Homo sapiens: one gene and its partners. The protein of the gene in region 1 purifies or fractionates together with the protein of each later gene. This does not show direct contact. Each region holds a gene or a part of one and is shown in the gene's direction. Other genes may lie near its edges.

Evidence for each region.
Region 2: the proteins of GSTO2 (region 1) and EDRF1 purify together in Homo sapiens (affinity purification with mass spectrometry; 2 studies listed by BioGRID and IntAct, with this or other methods). This does not show direct contact.
Region 3: the proteins of GSTO2 (region 1) and C10orf88 purify together in Homo sapiens (affinity purification with mass spectrometry; 2 studies listed by BioGRID and IntAct, with this or other methods). This does not show direct contact.

Annotation. Positions count from the first base shown.
Region 1 is NC_000010.11:104,293,168-104,300,194, forward strand, and holds part of GSTO2 (glutathione S-transferase omega-2), read left to right. Parts: intron 1-4,410; coding exon 4,411-4,517; intron 4,518-5,960; coding exon 5,961-6,117; 3' UTR 6,118-7,027. UniProt on the Homo sapiens protein: Exhibits glutathione-dependent thiol transferase activity. Has high dehydroascorbate reductase activity and may contribute to the recycling of ascorbic acid. Participates in the biotransformation of inorganic arsenic and reduces monomethylarsonic acid (MMA).
Region 2 is NC_000010.11:125,757,705-125,764,662, forward strand, and holds the end of EDRF1 (erythroid differentiation-related factor 1), read left to right. Parts: intron 1-5,596; coding exon 5,597-5,768; 3' UTR 5,769-6,435; downstream 6,436-6,958. UniProt on the Homo sapiens protein: Transcription factor involved in erythroid differentiation. Involved in transcriptional activation of the globin gene.
Region 3 is NC_000010.11:122,944,205-122,951,231, reverse strand, and holds part of C10orf88 (ATPase PAAT), read left to right. Parts: intron 1-2,376; coding exon 2,377-2,583; intron 2,584-7,027. UniProt on the Homo sapiens protein: ATPase that regulates mitochondrial ABC transporters ABCB7, ABCB8/MITOSUR and ABCB10. Regulates mitochondrial ferric concentration and heme biosynthesis and plays a role in the maintenance of mitochondrial homeostasis and cell survival.

The DNA of each region.
Region 1 (7,027 bases):
TGAAAAGGTGAGACTAAGGAGGAAATTCTTTTCACAGAGAAGCTCAGAGCCGAACCAATCCTTGGCTGTAGAGAAGGAGGAGCTTTCAGAGTTTGCTGGTTCCAAGCTTTTTTCTGTTACTTAAATTTAAAGCTGGAACAGAAGGTCAAGAAACAGGAAGGAAAACCGTATCAAGATATCAAGTCATGGTATTCTTTTTCATTCTTACAGAAAAGAATTCACAAGAGACTTGAGGAAGCTTTTTTATTTTTATTTTGTTCTGTTTATTTATTTATTTTAAGATGGGGTCTCACCCTGTTGCCCAGGTTGGTCTCAAACTTCTGGGCTCAAGTGATCTGCCCACTTCGGCCTCCCAAATTGCTGTGATTACAGGCATGAGCCACTGCGCCTGGCCAATTTTTTTTTTTTTTTTTTTTTTGCGACAAGGTCTTTCTCTAGAGTGCAGTGGCATGTTCACAGCTTAGTGCAGCCTTGACCTCCCAGCCTCAAGTGATCCTTCCACCTCAGCCTCCTTAGTAGCTAGGACTACAGGCATCACTAGGACTACAGGTGCCACCACCACGTCCAGCTAATTTTCGTATTGTTTGTAGAGACGGGGTTTCACCGTGTTTCTCAGGCTGGTCTCAAACTCCTTGGCTCAAGCAATTTAAGGAAGCTTTTCATTAGAGTCTAAAAATACATATTTGAATTGAATGACACAGGGTTGACACTAGTCAGAGAATTAGGAAAATGTGATATGCGTGTTAGTTCCAGTGCAAACCGGAGAGCCCGTTAACCTCCCTGGGACTGGGTTTCCTCCTCTGCACAGCAAGGCTCCCCTGTCCTTCCCCATGGGAGACAAGAATCACATCACCAGCATGTTTTCCTCTCCCCTTTGGCTGCCAGGAAACTCAAGAGTCAAATTCAAGGCTTTATTGAAGGAACTCTGCAGGACCCAGGACGTGATATCTTGATACTGTTTTCCTTCCTGGTTTTTGACCTTCTGTTCCAACTTGCGTTTTCCCTGATTATAGCATTTTATTATTTTTCATATTTAGTATGTAGTGCACATTTTTACACTACACTTCTAATCCTTTGTGTAATGATCATGGTAGAAATAAATGGTGAAATGAGGAGGTCCCACTTAGATGAGTTTCAGGGGTCCTTCCAGTCCCAATTTTCCAGGATTCTTAAGGGGAAAAAGTAATTTTACATGTCTGGAAGGTTCCAGGTTTGCACAGAAGGGAACTCTCCTATCGAGAGTCCTGAGGACTTCAGCAGACCTCCAGGGAGGCCTGTCCAGGATGTTCTCCTACGTCTGTAAAGGAGTGAGCACTTTGTGCTAGTTTAGGGAAAGACAGCTTTTCTGTTGGGATTTTAGACTTACCCTGCTTGAAATTGGTGGAAAAATACCTGTCTGGGATGGGGCTCAATAATCTGCAGCTGTATTAGGAAATGCAAGTAGTTTTGATGTGGGTGGTTTCAAGACATATTTGGAAAATGTGAGGGAAATGTGTATGTGCATTTGCTGAGCGGGGGACTGGTGAAGGATCACCGATCCATTTATTCCTAATGCTCATCTCAGCTTTTTATTGTGCCGAGTACCTTGATAAGGCTTGGGTTATTTTATGAGCGTTTATATATAAATTGATAGTGTCCATCAGATCATGTATATTTAGAGGCATGCTCCTACTTTGAGTAAATGGAAAGCTTTAGAGATATACACTAAATAAACATCAGTTACTAATTAAAAATTCCCTCCTCACTTTACCAAAGGACCCACCATGGGTTCCATTAAATGTCTATTTATGGTTTGTTTTGACAAAGACTTTTCCAAGAACACCTCTGTTCTGTAAAGCAGAAGAGCTGTGTAGATGTTCCAGAGTCGCTTGGTGTAAATTTGGTTCTGATTTGTGCCGTGAAGCCCAATAACAAACTGGAGGCACACATTTCAAAGCCAGTGGTAAGAGTTTGAGTAGTGATCATCTATTCCTGAACATAAAGTCTGGAGCCTTCTGGAATCCATAAAAATGGAATGATTTGTTCCTTTCCCCTCTAACCAAATTTTATTCATACCTGGCTATAAATAGCTTCTGTTTTGAGTTTTCACTGGTCAGACCCTGCTGTTTTAGTGCCATCCTGTTAGCTTCCTTGAACAAGGTAATGCCACCTAACATGTTTTTTCAGACTTCCAGGACAATGATCAGGGGGACTTCTCTATGCCACACTGGGAGGTGTGAAGGTGTAGGCTTTAGGGCAACCCCTCTGAGAAGGGGTGGCAGGTGGAGGAGCCCATTGATCCTTTCTATCAGGGATGGATTTGCTTTCTGTGGGTGTCACCTTCAGGGGCCTGTGTTCCCACTCATCACAGGAGCTCATATTTACTCAGTGGGGCCAGAGTGTTCTTCATACATGGTGATTTTACTCCTCACCATAACCTCCGTGGTGCGTGCTAACATGACCACCATTTTGCAGATGAGAACATGGAGGCTTGCAGGGGAGGTAAGTTGCCCCAGGTTCCATGCTGAATCAGAGGTCAAGCTCAGCACACAGCACAGGACCAAGTCTGCTGGTTCCCAAGCTCACATCCTTACCTACAACTCTGAATCACCCCACAGCAGAGTCAACAAGCTGGCCTGGCATGTGAAGAAGCAAGCCTGGGTGTCTCCTGGCTGCCAGTGCCATCCCTGCCCCGGGACCCTAATCCACAGTTTGATTCTGGTCCTTTTGCCCTCTGTCCCTCACCAGAACCCTGATATTTCCAGATGAAAACACGAGTATAGCTTATTTCCACAACTCACCTGGGCCCAGCAATCAAGATCTATAGCTATAGGGAAGTATTGAGTTGATTATGAGTTATATAGGTCAAAATGAGTAGCTTGCTTGATTGAAGCAGGTAATTCGTGCCATACTTTTCTCTTTGGGAAGACCTGTACCAACAATAACCTCTGCTAAACACTTTCGCTTTTTTAAATTTGCAGGTACTTTTTTGGGGCTGTCTTTGGCTGCCTGTCTGTTGAGAGTTTGTTTTCTTTACAGTCCATCTGATTTACAGTCCCTCCGGGTTGATTTGTCTCATTTGGGAATGAGAAATTTTATTTTAATGCATTAAGTAATAGTGTTGAGTGGCCAACAAATGTGAAGTTTGAAAAGCTCAAATGAAAAAAAAAGTGTGATAGAAACACAGAGTTGGGGGCCGGGTGCAGTGGCTCACACCTGTATTTCCGGCACTGTGGGAGGCCAAGACAGGAGGATCCCTTGAGCTCAGGAGTTTGAGACCCCTGGGCAACATGGCAAGACCCCAAGACCCCATCTCTACAAAAAAAATGTAAAAATCAGCCAGGGGTAATCCCAGCTACTTGGGAGGCTGAGGTGGAAGGATTGCTTGAGCCCGGGAGGTTGAGGCTGCAGTGAGCTGTGATCGATCTACTGGACTCCAGCCTGAGTGACAGAGCAAGACCCTATCTAAAAAAAAAAAAAAAAAAAAAAAAAGAAGAAGAAGAACACAGGTTGGAATTTGAGGGGGCCTGTTAAATAGGATGCTCTTTCCTGCCTTAGTTTTGAATTAATTGAGAAGATAAAATAATAAGGCATGGAGATTAGAGCATCCCCTTTCTTTTTTTCTTTTTCTTTTCTTTTTTCTTTTTTTCTTTTTTACTTTTTGCTCTTCTTGGCCAGGCTGGAGTGCAATGGCACAATCTTGGCTCACCACAACCTCCGCCTCGCGGGTTCAAGCAATTCTCTTGCCTCAGCTTCCCCAGTAGCTGGGGTTACAGCCACGTGCCATGATGCCCAGCTAATTTTGTATTTTCAGTAGAGACGGGGTTTCTCCATGTTGGTCAGGCTGGTCTCGAACTCCCCACCTCAGGTAATCCACCCGCCTCGGCCTCCCAAAGTGCTGGGAATACAGGCATGAGCCACCAGGCCCGGCAGCATCCCCTTTCTTATTGATAAAGCAGATCTTGGAGAATGGGAGATCCTGAGCGGGGTTCCTAATGCTAGCCTTCAACATCAGGCTGAGGCTCACCTTGTCTTCAAGTAATGGGCAGTGCTGGCCTGAAGGGGAGCCTCCTCTGTCCAGGGCTCAGCTTATCCTTGGAAGGCTTAGCACATTGAGGAGCTGCTCCAGGCTAAGAGGGAGGGACTGGGGTACTCTGTAGAGGTTGTTCTTCCAGTTTCTTCAATCAGATGAGCCACACTGTCACTCTAGTGTTGAAAGGAGGGAAGGGACAGAGGTGGCCAGGAGTGTGACCCTAAAAGAGGCAGAGGAGACCTCAGAGAAAGAGAAGAAGCATTCTCCTAACCAGAGGGAGAAGGAGAGAGGCCTCAGTTCTCCCTCTCTGGGAATTAATTTGAGATTTACATTTAGTGTCTATAAACATGTCAGCAGATATATAAACTTATTTGCTTTTGCTTTGTTTCCATTTTTAGATTCTTGAGTATCAGAACACCACCTTCTTTGGTGGAACCTGTATATCCATGATTGATTACCTCCTCTGGCCCTGGTTTGAGCGGCTGGATGTGTATGGGATACTGGAGTAAGACATTTGACATTGTGGTGTTAAATTCCCGGAGTCACACTGAGTAACAATGGTTAAGATGGTCTGCATGCCCCCTGTAGACATGTTTCAGGATGTCTGTGAAGTGAATCAGGTTTCTAAACCGCAGTGTGTGCTTCCTTGTTAAAAACATATGTGCTTTTCCACTGCTAACTTCAGACCCACACTTTGCCCGCATTTCTGCAGATCAGACCCCTAGCCCAGGAGCCTCCCGCAGACTTCAGAGCCTGCTGTCCTCACCAGCGCCCCCACATGGCCGGTCTGAGAGCAAGTGGAGAGTCACAGTCACAGTCACAGTGCCCAACGCCTCCACCTGGTCCTGACGGGTCCCCAGGGGACACCATATAACCTTAGTCATGTCTCATTGCCCGGAGGAATCTTCCCCCAGATAGGAATAACCTTATAAAAAAGATTTGTGTAGTAATATATGCTTGATATTGGAACATACAAACAAAATGGCAGTGACACACTATGGAAGTATGGAAGTGCAGGGACATTAAAGGAGAAGAAATAGCTGTGTAGGCTCCTGGGCAGAGCAGTGCTGTGTTACTTCAAAGCTCAGTGAAGCTGGACGTGTGCGGACGTCCACCCTAATCCAAGCCACCCTCATGGTGGGTGCTGGACATTTCTGGCACTTGGAAATCCGGCCCTGCTGAAGCAGAACTGTGTCTGCACCTTCATAACCCGTGGGCTGGAGCCCAACCAGCCACTGTCTCCTGCACTTCCGACTTCAGCTCTCTTTGTCAGGATATTTAAAACTCAATATCAAACATAAAATTTACAAAAGGCTGTATCCTCTGAAGACAGAGCATGGAGTCACAGGTTAGGAAACCTCACTTCTAGTCCTGGATTCCCGACAACCCATTCATATTATCTTCAGCTTATTGCTTTATAAACCCCAGAACTAAATATCCTGGTTGAGCTTTGAAAGAGCCCTGTCGGCTCCATGACTTCAAGGTTTCATCCTTGTTTTATTCATTTAAAAAATGTTTTAGAAATTATTTGTCTTTATTTTTTTATATCTCCTAAAGTAAAATCTGAGAATGACCCAAGAATATTTGTTTCAGAGGGTTGTCTTTTTGTTGGCAAGCAGTGAAGCACATGTAAGTTTCTCAAGCTTTAGAATATATATATATTAAAAAACAAAACAAAAAAAATGAAGCACAGACATGTTATTTTCCCAGAGCCATCAGTCCAAAGTATTTCACTGTATTATTAGAAGCAACAACTTCTAAACATTCAACTATTCCAAAAATAAGATTTTCCTCCAGTAAGTTATCATTCTCACTTGATAATAAGATAACTAAGATAACTTCCCAAATAAACTCATTCTTCATATCTTGCAAATCTAAAAAGCAACGTGCATCCCCTTTCCTGATGCCTACCCCTGCACTGTGCTGACGCTTCTTTCCTGTCTTGCAGCTGTGTGAGCCACACGCCAGCCCTGCGGCTCTGGATATCAGCCATGAAGTGGGACCCCACAGTCTGTGCTCTTCTCATGGATAAGAGCATTTTCCAGGGCTTCTTGAATCTCTATTTTCAGAACAACCCTAATGCCTTTGACTTTGGGCTGTGCTGAGTCTCACTGTCCACCCCTTCGCTGTCCAGAATTCCCCAGCTTGTTGGGAGTCTACGTCACGGCTTGTCTTGGGAACCAATCCGTCTCTCTTTCTTTTCTTTGAAGTTCCCAATAAAATGAAAACAGGAAATGTATTCTTCTGATAATCATTTGTCTGACTCCTCTAGCCTGTAGCTGCTGCTACTGCTGCTTTTTTTTCCTTTTTTTTTTTGAGGCAAGATCTTGCTTCGTTACTCAGGCTGGAGTGCAGTGGGACAGTCGGCTCACTGCAGCCTTGAACTCCTGGGCTCAGTTGATTCTCCCGCCTCAGCCTCCTGAGAAGCTAGGACTACAGGTATGTGTCACCACGCCCAGCTAATTTTTAAAAAAATGTTGTTGAGACAGGGTCTCACTATGTTGCTCAGGCTGGTCTCCATCTCCTGGCCGCAAGCCATCCACCCAACTTGGTCTCCAAAGTGTTGAGATTACAGGCATGAGCCACCTGGCCTGCCTAGCCTGTAGCTTCTAACTATTTTCTAGAAAGTGCCTGGTGCTAATGTCAGAGCACATTTTGGGAGCCTGTGTGCCTCCTAACTCCTTGGCCTTCAGCCTAGTTTGATCTCCAGATTATTGGTGCAGATGCTGATGCTGAGGTTCAGGGTCAACCTATGACTGATGCTTGTCACTACAGAATGGCACCCTCCAAAGACCTCCCTGGTGAAAGCTTAAGAAGAGGGAGAAGGAAGAAGAAAACACTCCAAACCTAAATACCTTCCATTTGGCAAATGAATGTCGCTGTCCACGTGGGCGAGTATGAGTGTAATTCTCCAAACTTTGGCCATGGGCCTGGAGACACCGAGGGTCTTGTGACTGGAAAGAATTCCAAAGCAGGAAATGAAACACCGGTTTATCACCCAGGACTAACTACGTC
Region 2 (6,958 bases), about 21 Mb from region 1:
ATTCTGGGTTAACAGTCCTTTTCATTCAGTACTTTAAAGATGTCACTCCATTGTCTCTGGCCTGTGTGTTTTCTGACCAGAAGCCAGCTGTGTTTCCTACTTTTGTTCATCTGTTAGAAATGCATCTTCCTTGCCTGTAGGCGCCTCACCCCCCAGCAGTTTAACTATGATAGGCTTGAGTGTGTCGTGATGGCTTTTACCTCTGGCTTCAGCATTTTTCTTTCTTCTGTTCCATTCTCTCTCCTCCTCTGTAGCCCGTTATGCCTATGTTAGACTGTTTGATGTTATTCCACAGCTCTTGGATATTCCGTTCTGGTTTTTTTGATGCCATTTTTTCCTTTTTGTGATTTTGTTTGGGTAATTTCTGTTGAACTGTCTTCAAGTTCATGGATTCCTTACTTGGTTTTGTGTCATCTACAGTTGAACTTTTTGAAGGCATTCTTTGTCTCTGTTACAATGTTCCTTATTTCTAGCAATTGCCCTGGGTTCATTCTTACAGTTCCAGCTCTCTGCTGAAATCACCAATCTGACCTTGCGTGGCATCCATCTTGTCCATTAGTGTCTTGAACATACTAATTATAGTCCTTTTAAATTCCCTATGAGATAGTTCCAACATCTGTGTCATAATTAGCTGGTTCTGTTGATTCTTTGTCTCTTGGAAGTATGTTGTTTTTTCCTTGCCTTCCGTATATCTCTTGTTTGTTGAAAACTGGACACCTTATGTATGATAGTAGAGACCAAGAGAAATATTTTTTTTTTGCCTGGAATTTTTTGTACTTTCCCCCTGCTACGGCTTTAGTGTGGGAAGTGGAATTCATTTTTCTAGCCTGGAGTTGAGCTGTGGTTGAGATTTTTTTATTGCGATGGTTACCTTCCATGTACCACAGGCTTCAAGTTTTCCTAGCAGTCCTCGTGTGTAGGGTGGAACAGATCTGCAGAAGGTGATTCTTAGTGTCTTCTCTACCTTCAGCTCTAGGTCTTTCTTTTGTTTTGCACCTTAGAGAGGGTCTGTCTTTATACTCTCACAGTTCTTCCAGCCATATTCCACTGTCACTGGTCCTTCGGTGCCTTTTCGCCTGTTTGGGAGGGAGCAGGGAGTTAGCAAGGACTCCATAGTTGTTTAAGCCTCAGTCCAGGCAGACACTCGTGTCCCTGAGTCTCAGGACTGTGGCCTTCCCACTGCTCCTGCACCCCCACCTAACCCTTCAGAGTGTTTTTTTCTGTTCCCTTCCCCTCTCTTCATTGACTTTAACCAACGCCCTAAGGTTGGCAGGGTTCATTGTCTTCCCCCACCCCCATTGAGTCTTTTGTTTCATAGAGGAGAAGGGTCCAGGTGGGGTTGCTGGTCCCTCCCATAGCAGCTGCTGTTACCCTGTCATAGGTCTACAGCAGGAGGGTCAGTCTGTCAGGATTCTCACTGGTCTTTTATGTGGGCATTTGGTGAGGTCCTTGGAGAAAAGCCAGTAAGAAGATGTGAACCCCCTGACTCCACAGAGGCCCTATACTTTCTCACCAGCCTCACTGGGCCCCCACCAACCCATTCACTATTTTAGCTAAATGCTTACTGGCATCTGGCTGCATCTGCCCCAGGTAAGGAAGGACTGTCCTTTCTCTCCCTGTATCAGCCTGTCTCTCCTTAGATTGCAGGCTAGTTGGCTGCCCCACCTCTCTCATGGATTTAAGAAGAGCCATGACCTTGTAGTTTGCCCTGCTTGAGCCAGAGACTTTTTCCGGTTCTGCACCATGAATAGAAACTTCTTTCAATAATTGCCTTTGAACTAAGTGCCATGGCTTACACCTGTGATCCCAGCTATTTGGGAGACTGAGGCAGGAGAATTACATGAACCCAGGAGTTCAAGGCCACAGCAAGCTCTGATGGCACCACTGCACTCCAGCCTGGGAGACAGAGCAAAACCCAACTCTTTAAAAAAAAGAAAAAAAATGGCTTTTGAATAATTCTCTATAGTCTAAGGAGAGCTTTTATTTGGTTGTGTGTGTTTTTATTTTTATTTATTTTTTTTTTTGAGACAGAGTCTCGCTCTGTCGCCCACGCTGGAGTGCAGTGGCGCAATCTCGGCTCACTGCAAGCTCCGCCTCCCAGGTTCACGCCATTCTCCTGCCTCAGCCTCCCGAGTAGCTGGGACTACAGGCATCCGCCACCACACCCGGCTAATTTTTTGTATTTTTAGTAGAGACGGGGTTTCACCGTGTTAGCCAGGATGGTCTCGATCTTCTGACCTCATGATCCACCTGCCTCAGCCTCCCAAAGTGCCGGGATTACAAGTGTGAGCCACCGCGCCTGGCCTTATTTGGTTGTTAATCCACAGTGTCTGCACCATATCCTGGTTGTGGTACACAGCAGCGGGTGTTGATACACTCACTGTAATTTAGCAGAGACATCCATCTTTTTGAAGAGCCCTAAGGCGGAGCAGATACTGCATATGGTAACAAGGCTTGGAAAGAATTCCTGCCTTTTTCTAACAGCAGTGGGTAAAGTTTTTAAATTTGTATTGGTTTCCACAAGATGGTAATATAAATATATGATACATGAGAAAAAGTGATTCATTGATTTTTCACAAGTCAATCATTTGAGTAATTGGTAATAGGTAATAGTTTCAGTTTTATCTTTTATAACTGTAACAGTCATATGTATGACCTAAGTAATTTTTATTTTAATGGAAGGTTTTCTAAGCTTCTGTTTATTTAGGTTATTAATATTCTGCTGAAAACTATTGTAATCTAAAGTTTTCATGCATGACACATACAATCTTATTTAGCTAATTTATATTGATTTTAAGGTTTATTAAACTTAAATGTGATAATGTGTTAATAAAATAAACACTTTGACAAGTTTCAAAACAAAAATATTAATTACTAAGTCAGTGACTATTTCATTTTTCACTGATGTGCAAATGAAAACATCTATAATTTTATTGTTAAGAGGAAAATACCCTCTGCCACAGGCTTAGTTGTTTCACAGTGAATACATGAACATTCTCTTTTGCAATATAGAGAGAAATCAGAATGAGACCTAAAAGAAAGAAAATGCAATCAGCCCTCTGTATCCAAGGATTCTGCATCCACAGATTCAACCAACCACAGACTGAAAATATTAAATAAATAAAAAATAATACAAATTTAAAAAGCAATATAGTATAACAACTATTTATATGGCATTGACATTGTATTAGGTATTATAAGTCATCTAGAGTTGATTTAAAGTATATAGGAAGATGTACACAGCCTAAATGCAAATGCTGCACCATTTTATATCAGGGACTCCAGCCTCCTCAAATTTTAGTTTCCTGGAGGGTCCTGGAACCAATCCTCCACAGATACTGAGAGGCCATGTTAAACAAATTTTTGTTTTATTTTTTGACTACTGCTTTTTCCACTTCATGCCCTCTGGCAAAAAAATAAACAAGGCTTAATAATTAAAATCTTAAGTTTATTAGATTCCTATAGAATTAGAGTGAAAGATGCATTTTACTTGTTTAAAAAAAATTTTTGTTTTCATTTTCAGGTGATGCAGGCATTTCATCATCATATGACAACTGCATTGGCATTGACCTGCTAGAAATTCTAGCAGTAGCAGTTTGTTAGGCCAAAGGTTTTCTCTTTTCTCTTTTTGAATTTAGAATTTACTCTTCTACTGTATTTTAATATTCATTGCTTTCACAGATCCAGGCCTCTTAACATTTTGGTGGCTTTGCGGTTTAATATAATGAAATACCATAAAAAGTAGAAGTAATCTCTGAAGATTCAGGGAGCTCTCTGCTGCAGTGCTAAGAACAGATCCTTTGGATTCATGGGTTGTTCCCATTAGATGTGTACATTTAATATTTTGTTAAGATTAGTAAAAAGGGAGATGAAAGAATGTAAGTTAGTTCCCTTTAGAAAAAGCCTGTGAGATGATGGAGCCCTCTGAATAGGGGTCATAGGTCAGTGAAACTGCTGATAAGAATGCATTAAGGAAGGCGTGATTTGTAGAAATTGGAAGATGAAGATTTAAGATTCAGAGTTATGGTTAGGACAAATCAAAAGATTTTAAGTTTATGATCCCTGCAGCCATCAATTATCTTTAGGCACCCAACTATTAATAAAATGACAGTGTGATGTCATTGTCCACAAAGAATAAGTCATCTTTCAAATGCCTTTTCTAATTGTTAAGTGCTAATGCCTTGATTACTGTCAGAGTAATTTAAATTTTCTATAAGATTATCAAAGGTTTTGTGACTGTTAACTCCCCACAAAACTAAAATCTAGCCAATCTTAGGCCCAGATTACAGATAGGGAATGCATTTGGAACAGTCACTTGCTGTACTGTGGTTGTTGGGGGAAGGCAGGAGGAGATTTGCCTGATAAAATAAGTGGGAATTGGAGGGGAGAAATGTCTAAAGGCAGCGATGGGGATCCTGTGGAGGAGGAATGGAGCCAGGAATAATAGAAAGGGGAACTCCTGGGGAAGGGAGCTCTGCATGCTGGCTGCTCTGTGGCAGGCCTGACTGGCAAGCCCTTGGGTGAAGGGAGAAAATTTGTACCCTGAAGAGGTGAAAGAGCATAGCATTTGAAATTGGAAAACATGACATTTTGACCTTAGTCCAAACTGTTAACCCTTCTGGGCCTTAGGTTTTACATCTGTAAATTCAAAATGCTAGTCCTTGCCTATCTGAGGGGATGGGATTATTGTAAGGCTCAGATGTGTTCATGGACACTGAAAAGAGTTGTGGAATTGTTACCTGGTATCTGGTTATGTGAGCCAGGGGTCTCCACCTGGACTCATTTAAAAAAAAAAAAAAAGATGCTAGATATGAACTGCCACGTAATTACTAGTCTTTTCCAGTAGTAACAAAAATAGAATTCACCGATCCATCATAAGGGGTAAATGTTTTCAGGACAAACTGTAAACTGAAATAGTTTTCAGGTAGAGTACTGTCTAGTACTCTTCAGCTGAGGGGCAGTCTTCACACAGAATTGCACTGACATTTTCAGAGTAAACTGAGATGCAGCAGTTCTTGTAATTCAGGAATCCATGTTTAAATCCTAGGTAGTTCTAGCTCTAGAGACGGCAGTACAACAGTGGCTTTAGATGTGTGTTTATGACACAGGAAGGCGCTTAGGCCGAGCTTGAGGAACAGAGGAAATACTGCATAGCTCCTTCTGTGCCCTCACCCGGCTCCACTGCATTTTCTTCATGGCCGTCCGTCTGTCACTCTCTTGTTTACTATGGTTTCCCCCAGTGCCTCCCCTCCCCTCCCCCAAACTCCTACCTCAATAGGATGCAAATTCCATAAGGCAGGGGCTTCTTTTTGCCTGTTTTGTTCTCTGTCAAGAGCAATTCCTAGTACATAATAGGCATTCAAATATTTATAAAAGGAATGAGTACTGGATTTCATTGATGTATTGAAATAAATGTGTAGAAACAGGCCCATGAGCAATATGTAAAAGAAGGCAGGTCTGAACCCGGCAGGAGAGGAATGCCTGCTGCTCTGTGAAGAGTGACTGTTGGGCTGTCACTGTCCGGTTTTCTGGACCTCTGAATTGTCGGTAGGCATTGCTGGTCCCTTACCTGTCTCTTTTTCTTTTTTAACCCTAGCAATAACATCGAAGATGACACAATTCTCAAAACCAACAAGCACATTTACTCCCAGCTTTTGAGAGCAACTGCAAATAAAACCGCGACTCTTCTGGAAAGAATCAACGTTATCGTCCACCTGCTGGGCCAGCTTGCCGCCGGCAGTGCAGCGAGCAGCAATGCCGTTCAGTGACTGCACAGAGCCGTGTCCCAGACACGCTGTCAGTGCCTTCAACACGGAGCCGGTTTGTTCATTCGGTGCTTTGTTTCATTAAATAATAGGGAAATATCCATTTAAAACAGGTATATCAGTGGAAACACAGAGTTATTTTAAGTGACAGACAAATTACGGTTGAGTTCTGTGGCTTCTTCACTTGAAGTGCTAACATCAGAATCAAACTTAAAGCTTCCACTATTTATGTCTTTGAGAAGTATGTAGTACCTCGGTATTAACAGACCTGCTGTGATGCAGTTACACTTTCACGTATTTTTGAAGTATGTCAAGCTACACGGGTCTAAGATATGATTATTTTGGATAAAATGTTACTTTGGTCAAGAGAACTTTTATCCAGATGACATTACAGGTTCAAGTGGGTTAAGGAGACCTCCTGTACATCTACAGTGTTTCCTTTTAAATTGTCCAGAAAAAAGGTGTGTTCTTCATAAGCTTCAGTGCAGGATTTTTCAAAGACGAGCTGTTGTGCAATTTGCTGTATTTAATGCATGTTCTGAAAGGATTCACTTTTGACTTTATATGACAGTTGATCAAGAACAGGTACTACCCCTTTTTTTCATTTCAAACTTGAAACTGTGAATAAGGTAAGAAAACTATTTTGAATAAATAAACTATTTATTTAAAATGTCTTTGTATTTTTCCAATTTCCATTCTTCACATTGAGTTTTGATTTGAACTCAGTCTAAAATTAATAAACTTTACAAAGCAAAGCTCAAAACATTAAAAGTAAAATTCTGCTGTCCACTAAATTCTCCCTAGAATATTTTACTTATTGCTGCTGCTACATGGCTCTTGTCCAGTTACACACAAACATCCCCTGTTCTTTGTAATGGCTACAGTGCACAAGGCTGTTTTCGTTCATAATTCATATTTTCAATTTCAAGACAGTGTAACAGATAAAACAGGCTCTTTCGAGGTGAGGTGAAGGTCTGGACTTCTGTGCATGACACCATTGTAGGTAGGTCTGCTGCGTAGGCCTGGGGGCAGGTGCACTGGAGATTCGGCCAGCTCCCTGCAGGCCCTCCATGGTGGCCAGAACCCGCTCCCACACCAGCCAGACCTCTGAAGGAATTCCAACTATACTAGAAAACTGTCTAGAAGACCTAGTTTTAAGCCGAATTTTTACAGAGCTATGATGTAAAAGAGAC
Region 3 (7,027 bases), about 19 Mb from region 1:
ACAAAATTAGAGAAGTTTCAAGCAAGAGAACCAATAAGTTAAAGGGATTGGACTGTTGTCTTCAGCATGAAAAATATTGTTAAGGTAACTGTTAGTTATGTCTTCAGAGTCTAGGGATAAGGTAATGGATTGGAAGTCTTAAGCCCTGAATGCTAATTCAGTTCTGTCCTGACTAGTGGATTAGTCTTGGGCAGATTTTGGACCTATCTCATGGGTAAAATTAGAGAGCTGAAGAAAATTCTTGGATTCTTTTTATCTCTAAACTTCTGTACTTATTATCATTACTTATAGAAGATTGAAACCTATTTTTACAATAAGAAAAAATAAGTGATTTTTACAGGCAGATAGCAAACTCACAGGACTGATTATCCCAAGATGTTGTTTTGGATAGTATATATTAAATAGCTTCTAAAACCATTTGAATAAAGTAATTTCTTCATTCAACAAAGATTTGAGTGCCTCTTAATGTCAGGTACTATACCAGTCATTTAGGAATTAGCAATAAGAAAATAAACTGAAATGCCTGAACTTATGTTGCTTGTATTCTAGTGGGCAAGACAGACAATAAGGAGACTCAATGAGTAAAATAAATACTATATTTAATGGTGAAAAAGGCTATGGGGTTAAAAAGAGAAAGGGGGATAATAGAGAGGTTGAGAGGTAGGAGGTTAATAAGAGTGTTTCCTTAAAATGTTGAAGACAGTCACATCTTTGGTTCAACACTTAAGAGTTCTTGGATCATGAGTCTGTATTGACCTATGTCCTTGTTTGACATGTGGACCTGTGTGTCTCTCTGAAGGTGAATGTTTTTTTAACTGTTCAATGGAGGTACATGGGAGTGCAAAGGGTTATTTCAGGGAAGCTCTAGGATTGATATGAAAGCTTGTTCTGAGGCAATAGTATATGGAAGTTCAAATAAAAAAATGGTTACTTATACAGGTTTTTGAGCACTTACTTACTGGTAGCTACTGGAAATTTTAACATATAATCCTCGCAACAACTATGTGAAATCATTGCTACTGTCTTCTCTCATTTTTATCCTGACTCAGATTTAGCATTTGCCCAGGGTCACACAGGTTGTTAAGTACCAGAGTCGTAAGTTAAACTTAGGTTTGTCTGATTCTAAAGTCCGTTCCCTTTCCATTTTGCTACTCTGTTGTCTGTACCATACATGAAATGTCTCGTTTCAGAAATATGGACAGGATAAAATGTTGGATAAACTACAGGGATAGAAGCCAGAAGAGATAGGTTTCAAGCTGGTTCTTTACTAATTGAGTGTCCTTTAACAAGTTAGAAAAATCACCCTTGAAGTCATCATTTCTATGTGTAATCCAGCAAGCTATATTACATCATTTTGATATTCTCTTATAGTTCTGAATTTGAAAGGATTGCATTTTACTTATTTCAGTAAACGTTTTACATGAGCATTTGGACAGACTTATTTTGTGTTAAGTAGCAAGTTGTGGTGTGTTAAGGTCTCAGATTGGTATATAGCAGTTCTCCTTTATCTGCAGTTTCACTTTCCACAGTTTCCATTACCCACAGTCAACTGAGGTCCAAAAATATTAAATGGAAAATTTCAGAAATAAACAATTCATAAGTTTTAAATTGTGCTTCATTCAGCGTAGTGTGATCGAATCTCCTGCCATCCTGCTCAGTCCTGTCTGGAACATGAATCATCCTTTTGTCTAGTATGTCCCTGCTGTATATGTTACTGCCCATTAGCCACTTACTAGCCAAATGTATCATCAGAAGGTCAGTAGTAGCCTAATCCTGTATTACAATGCCTGTGTCATTCACCTCACTTCATCTCATTATGTAGGCATTTTATCATGTCACGTCATTACAGGAAGGGTAAGTATTGCACAGTAAGATTTAGAGAGAGGAGACCATATTCACATAACTTTTATTATGTTGTCAAAATTACTCTATTGTTAAACTCTTACTATACCTAATTTATAAATTAAACTTTATCATAGGTATGTATGTATAGGAAAAAATATAGGGGTTGGTACTATATGCAATTTCAGGGAGCCACTGGAGGTCTTAGAACACATTCTCCACAGATAAAGAGGAACTACTATAGTTTATTTTTAGTTCTTTAAATAGGTAAACATTTATTTAATCACCTCATTTGTTATTTTACATGAAGTCTTAATTTTTGAAAGGACTCTTATTTAAATAGTTCATCTGAGCCTCATGATAAATTGGAATTTTTCCTGACTATTGCTGTTCTAGAGAAAAGTTTAAAATATACTTGAAGTTAATTTTTAGATTCTTGAATACTTCACTCTTGTTTAGGTCATACCAAGAAGTTACATTAAATGATTATTGTTTTTAATATCATTCTTTTCTGGAACTTTTGTTTTATAATAGTTGCTCTCCTTTGGCGAAAGGCAGTGTGTGTTCATCAGTAAAGTTGTGGTACACATGAGATCAGTTTTTGCAAATTCTTCAACAAGCTCTCCTGCTCTAGGATCAAGGATAGACCTTGACAAGGTCCAAACCATAATGGAGTCCATGGGGTCAAAGTTATCTCCTGGAGCTCAGCAGTTGATGGATATGGTTAGGTGTCAGCAGCGGGTAAGTAGAAATGGATTTCTTTCCAGATAACATTAATGATTTCAAAACCATTGCTTTTAGTAAAGAAATGTAGTGACTTAAAATTTTTCTTTCATACTGATTTAACTGTTATCTTTTAGTTTTGTAGAAGTTAACATTTGTTAGATTTGCCCTTCTACAAAGTGTTTTGACTACACATTTTCACACTTTTTATGAATGCATTCATTCATTCAGCAAGATTTTTTTCTTGCAGTAAACAAGGCACTGGTTTGAGCAATTTTGAGTGTGCGAAGATGGTCAGTTAATCTGTAGTCTTTAAGAATTTTTACATTCTGGAGCATGTAAGTGGGGAATGATGAAAACACTAAGGAAAGGCTCACTAAAAGAAGTGGTATTTTATCTAGGCCTTTAAAATGTAGGGTGGGATTAGACAAGTAAATTTGGAAGAAGGCCATTTCAGACAAAAAATAAGGTGAATAAAATCTTCAATGCTAGAAGAATTTGATATAGCTGGGAAATGAATGGTAGTTCATTTCTCTGAAGCAAAAAAGTAATAGGCAAAGTTTAAAGTAGATTTCAGCTAGATCATAAACAGCTTGGGATGCTGGTTTAAATTTGTAGATGTTTTTGACTTATGTTTCAAGAAATTTTAAGCCACTGTCAAGTGTAAGGTGAATCTGAAGAAAGTGAGACTACAAGGAGAAGATGAGCTGCACGTCATTCCCCTCGTCCAGATGAGAGTGAATGAGGTCTAAGATTGGACGTAGTAACATAATGCTGGATGCTAAATGATGCTAAAATGATGGAGCCATTGGGACTTGACAGCTAACTTAATATTGGTATTATGATAGAAAAATCAAGTTAAACATGAAATTGAGGCTTTGAAGATGGTGATACTAATAATATAAATGCAGCCCAAAGGAGGAGGATGCTTGGAGGAAAAAGGAATTTAATTTTGGGAACATTGACTTTTAGCTGTGAATAAGACATTCCCTGGAAGGATGTTGCAAACATCTGGAAACAGAGGATTAGGAGAAATGGAATGAACCTTCAGTGGCTGGAAGGGAAGTTTAGGGGTGTACCCACAGTAGCTGACGGAGGGTGGTGAAGGGAGAGGAAAAAGGAACCAGAAACATAGAAGGCAGCAGTGTGATAGAGTAGCAAGAGAAACGATTTGATGTCAGGTAAAGTGACTTCAAACTCTTGTCCTGCCTCTTCTTAGTTCTGCATCCTATGGCAAGTTAATTAATATTTTTTTCAATATGAATTCCTCATGTACAAAATCTAAATGATAACACTGTAAGGATCACAGAATTGATGTGAAAATTTAAAATAAGTAATGCAAGTAAAGAACTCCTTGTAGATGTTGTGTGGTTCACAAATATTAATGTAGTACCAGTATTATAATATGGGCTGAGTTAAGAGAACCAGGAGAGCTGAAGATTATGGAAACCACAGAAAGAAGAATTTCAAAAAAGATGGAAATGTATACTTTTCTTCCTCCCACACCATGTTCTCACCTGGATACCTCAGGAGATTCCTAACTGGCCCACCTGTCCTGCTACAATCTGTTTTCCACAATGTACCGAGAATGACCTCAAAGGATAATTGGATCTCATCCTTCTCCTGTGCAAAGCCCCCTGACTGCTTGCCTCCCTTTGTACTTAGAATTAATCCTGATTCCTTACCTTAATCTCTAAAATGTAGGCCCTGCTTGCCTTCTCAACCTCATCTCCTGCCATGTTTCCTTGGGCAGCTTGCTCCAGACATTCTGATATGTGTATTCCGTAAATATCTAGATATGTTCCCACCTCCAGACCTTTGCACTCATAACTGTTCTCTGTGGCCAGAACTCCCTCCCTGTGATACTTCTGTATCTGCATTTTTCTTATTCAGATCTCATTTTAATGTTACATCTTTAATGACACCTTTCTTAGCCAACCAGTGTAAAGTAGCATGTACCTCCAAATCCGTATCAGTTTCATCAGTGCCCTTTTGACCACTTTGTTGTTGTTTTTGTATTGGTTGCATGTTTATCTCACTAAAAGACAAGCTTCATGTAAACAAGACTTATCTGTCTTGTTTATGGCTCCAAGTATTATACACAGTCATGCATCAATTCACAGTGGGGATATGTTCTGAGAACAAAGGTGATTAGGGGATTTCATGGTTATGAAACCATCATGGTATGTACTTGCAGAATCCTAGATCATATAGCCTACTACGTACCTAGGTTACGAACCTGTATAGCATGTTACTTTACAGAATACTCTAGGCAGTTATAATGGTAAGGATTTGTGTATCTAAACATAGAAGAGGTACTGTAAAAATATAGTATACAAGATGAAAAATGGCACGCCTGTATAGGGCACTTACCATGAACTGAACTTGCAGGACTAGAAGTTACTCTAGGTAAGTCAGTAACTGAATATGAAGGCCTAGAACATTACTGTACACTACTGTAGACTTTATAAACACTGCACATTTAGGCTATGCTAAATTTCTTTAAACATTTTTTATTTTTCAATAATAAATTAAGCTTAGCTTATTGTAACTTTTTTTTTTTTATTTTTTGCGACAGAGTCTTCCTCTGTCATCTGGGCTGGAGTGCAGTGGTATGATCTCAGCTCACTGCAACCTCTGCCTCCTGGGTTCAAGCAATTCTCCTACCTCAGGCCCCTGAGTAGCTGGATTACAGGCGCATGCCACCACACCAGACTAATTTTTTTATTTTTAGTAGATACGGTGTTTCACCATGTTGGCCAGGCTGGTCTCGAACTCCAGGTTCTCAGGTGATCACCTGCCTTGGCCTCCCAAAGTACTGGGTGGGATTACAGGCGTGAACCACCATGCCCAGCCTATCGTAACTTTTTAACTTTATATACTTAAATTTTAAAAAACTTTTTGACTCTTTTGTAGTAAAGAGCTTAAAACACAAACTCATTGTATAGCTGTACAAATATATTTGGTTTCTTTATATCCTTTTTCTATTAAGCTTTTTTTGTATTTAATTTTTTTTTAAGTTTTAAACTTTTTTGCTTAAAACAAAGACACAAACATACACATTACCCTAGGCCTACAGAGGGTCAGGATCATAAGTATCACTGTCTCCCACCTCCATATCTTGTCCCACTGGAAGGTCTTCAGGGACAGTAATACCCATGGAGCTGTCATCTTGTATAATAATAATGCCTTCTTCTGGAAGACCTCCTGAAGGACCTGCCTGAGGTGGTTTTACAGTTAACTTTTAAAACATATAAGCAGAAGGAATATACTTTAAGACTAAAAATATGGTATAGTAAATACATAAACCAGCAACATAGTCATTGATTATTATTACTAAGTAGTATACAGTATACATAATTGTACATGCTATACTTTTATATGACTGGCAGTGTGCAATCGGTTGGTTTACACCAACATTGCCACAAACATGTGAGTAATGTGTTACTATGATACCACTTGGGGACTGGAATTTTTTAGCTCCATTGTAATCTTATGGGACCACTGTCATATGTGGGTCCATTGTGGACCAAAACATTGTAATGTGACACATACATATATCTATCTATACATACATATATATATACGTATATATACATGCATATATCTATATACATATATATATACACATATATACACGCATATATCTATATACATATATATATATACACATATATATACACACACACCTATTGGATTGATCAGCTATTTCTTGGAGATCCTCAGGGAGTAAGTTTGAATAGTGATGAGATGTAAACCAAATTGTGAGGGATTAGGTAGTAACTGGGTATTTGGGATGTGGAGTTACTAAGTGCACACAGGTTTTTTTTTTTCAAGTTTAGAGATAAAGAGGAAATTAGATACTTGTGTAAAGGAATATTGAAGATAAATAAGGAATTTGAAAAGCTTGTGAGATTTGAGCTTTATTAAGAATTTATTTAGGGCAGTGTATTTTTTCAAGTACACTCCATTGAACACCTGTGTCAGAATCCTTTGGAAGGTCTTCAAAATGCAGATTCCTGGCCCTCACTATCTACTCAATCCCAGAGGGTGGGGTCCAGGAATCAGTGTTTTAAACAGTCATGTCTAAGTGAGTTTTATGTACATTGTGATTTGATAATAACTCTTTTTTTTAATTATTATTATACTTTAAGTTTTAGGGTACATGTGCACAATGTGCAGGTTTGTTACATATGTATACATGTGCCATGCTGGTGCGCTGCACCCACTAACTCGTTATCTAGCATTAGGTATATCTCCCAATGCTATCCCTCCCCCCTCCCCCCACCCCACAACAGTCCCCAGAGTGTGATGTTCCCCTTCCTGTGTCCATGTGTTCTCATTGTTCAATTCCCACCTATGAGTGAGAATATGCGGTGTTTGGTTTTTTGTTCTTGTGAGAGTTTACTGAGAATGATGGTTTCCAATTTCATCCATGTCCCTACAAAGGACATGAACTCAC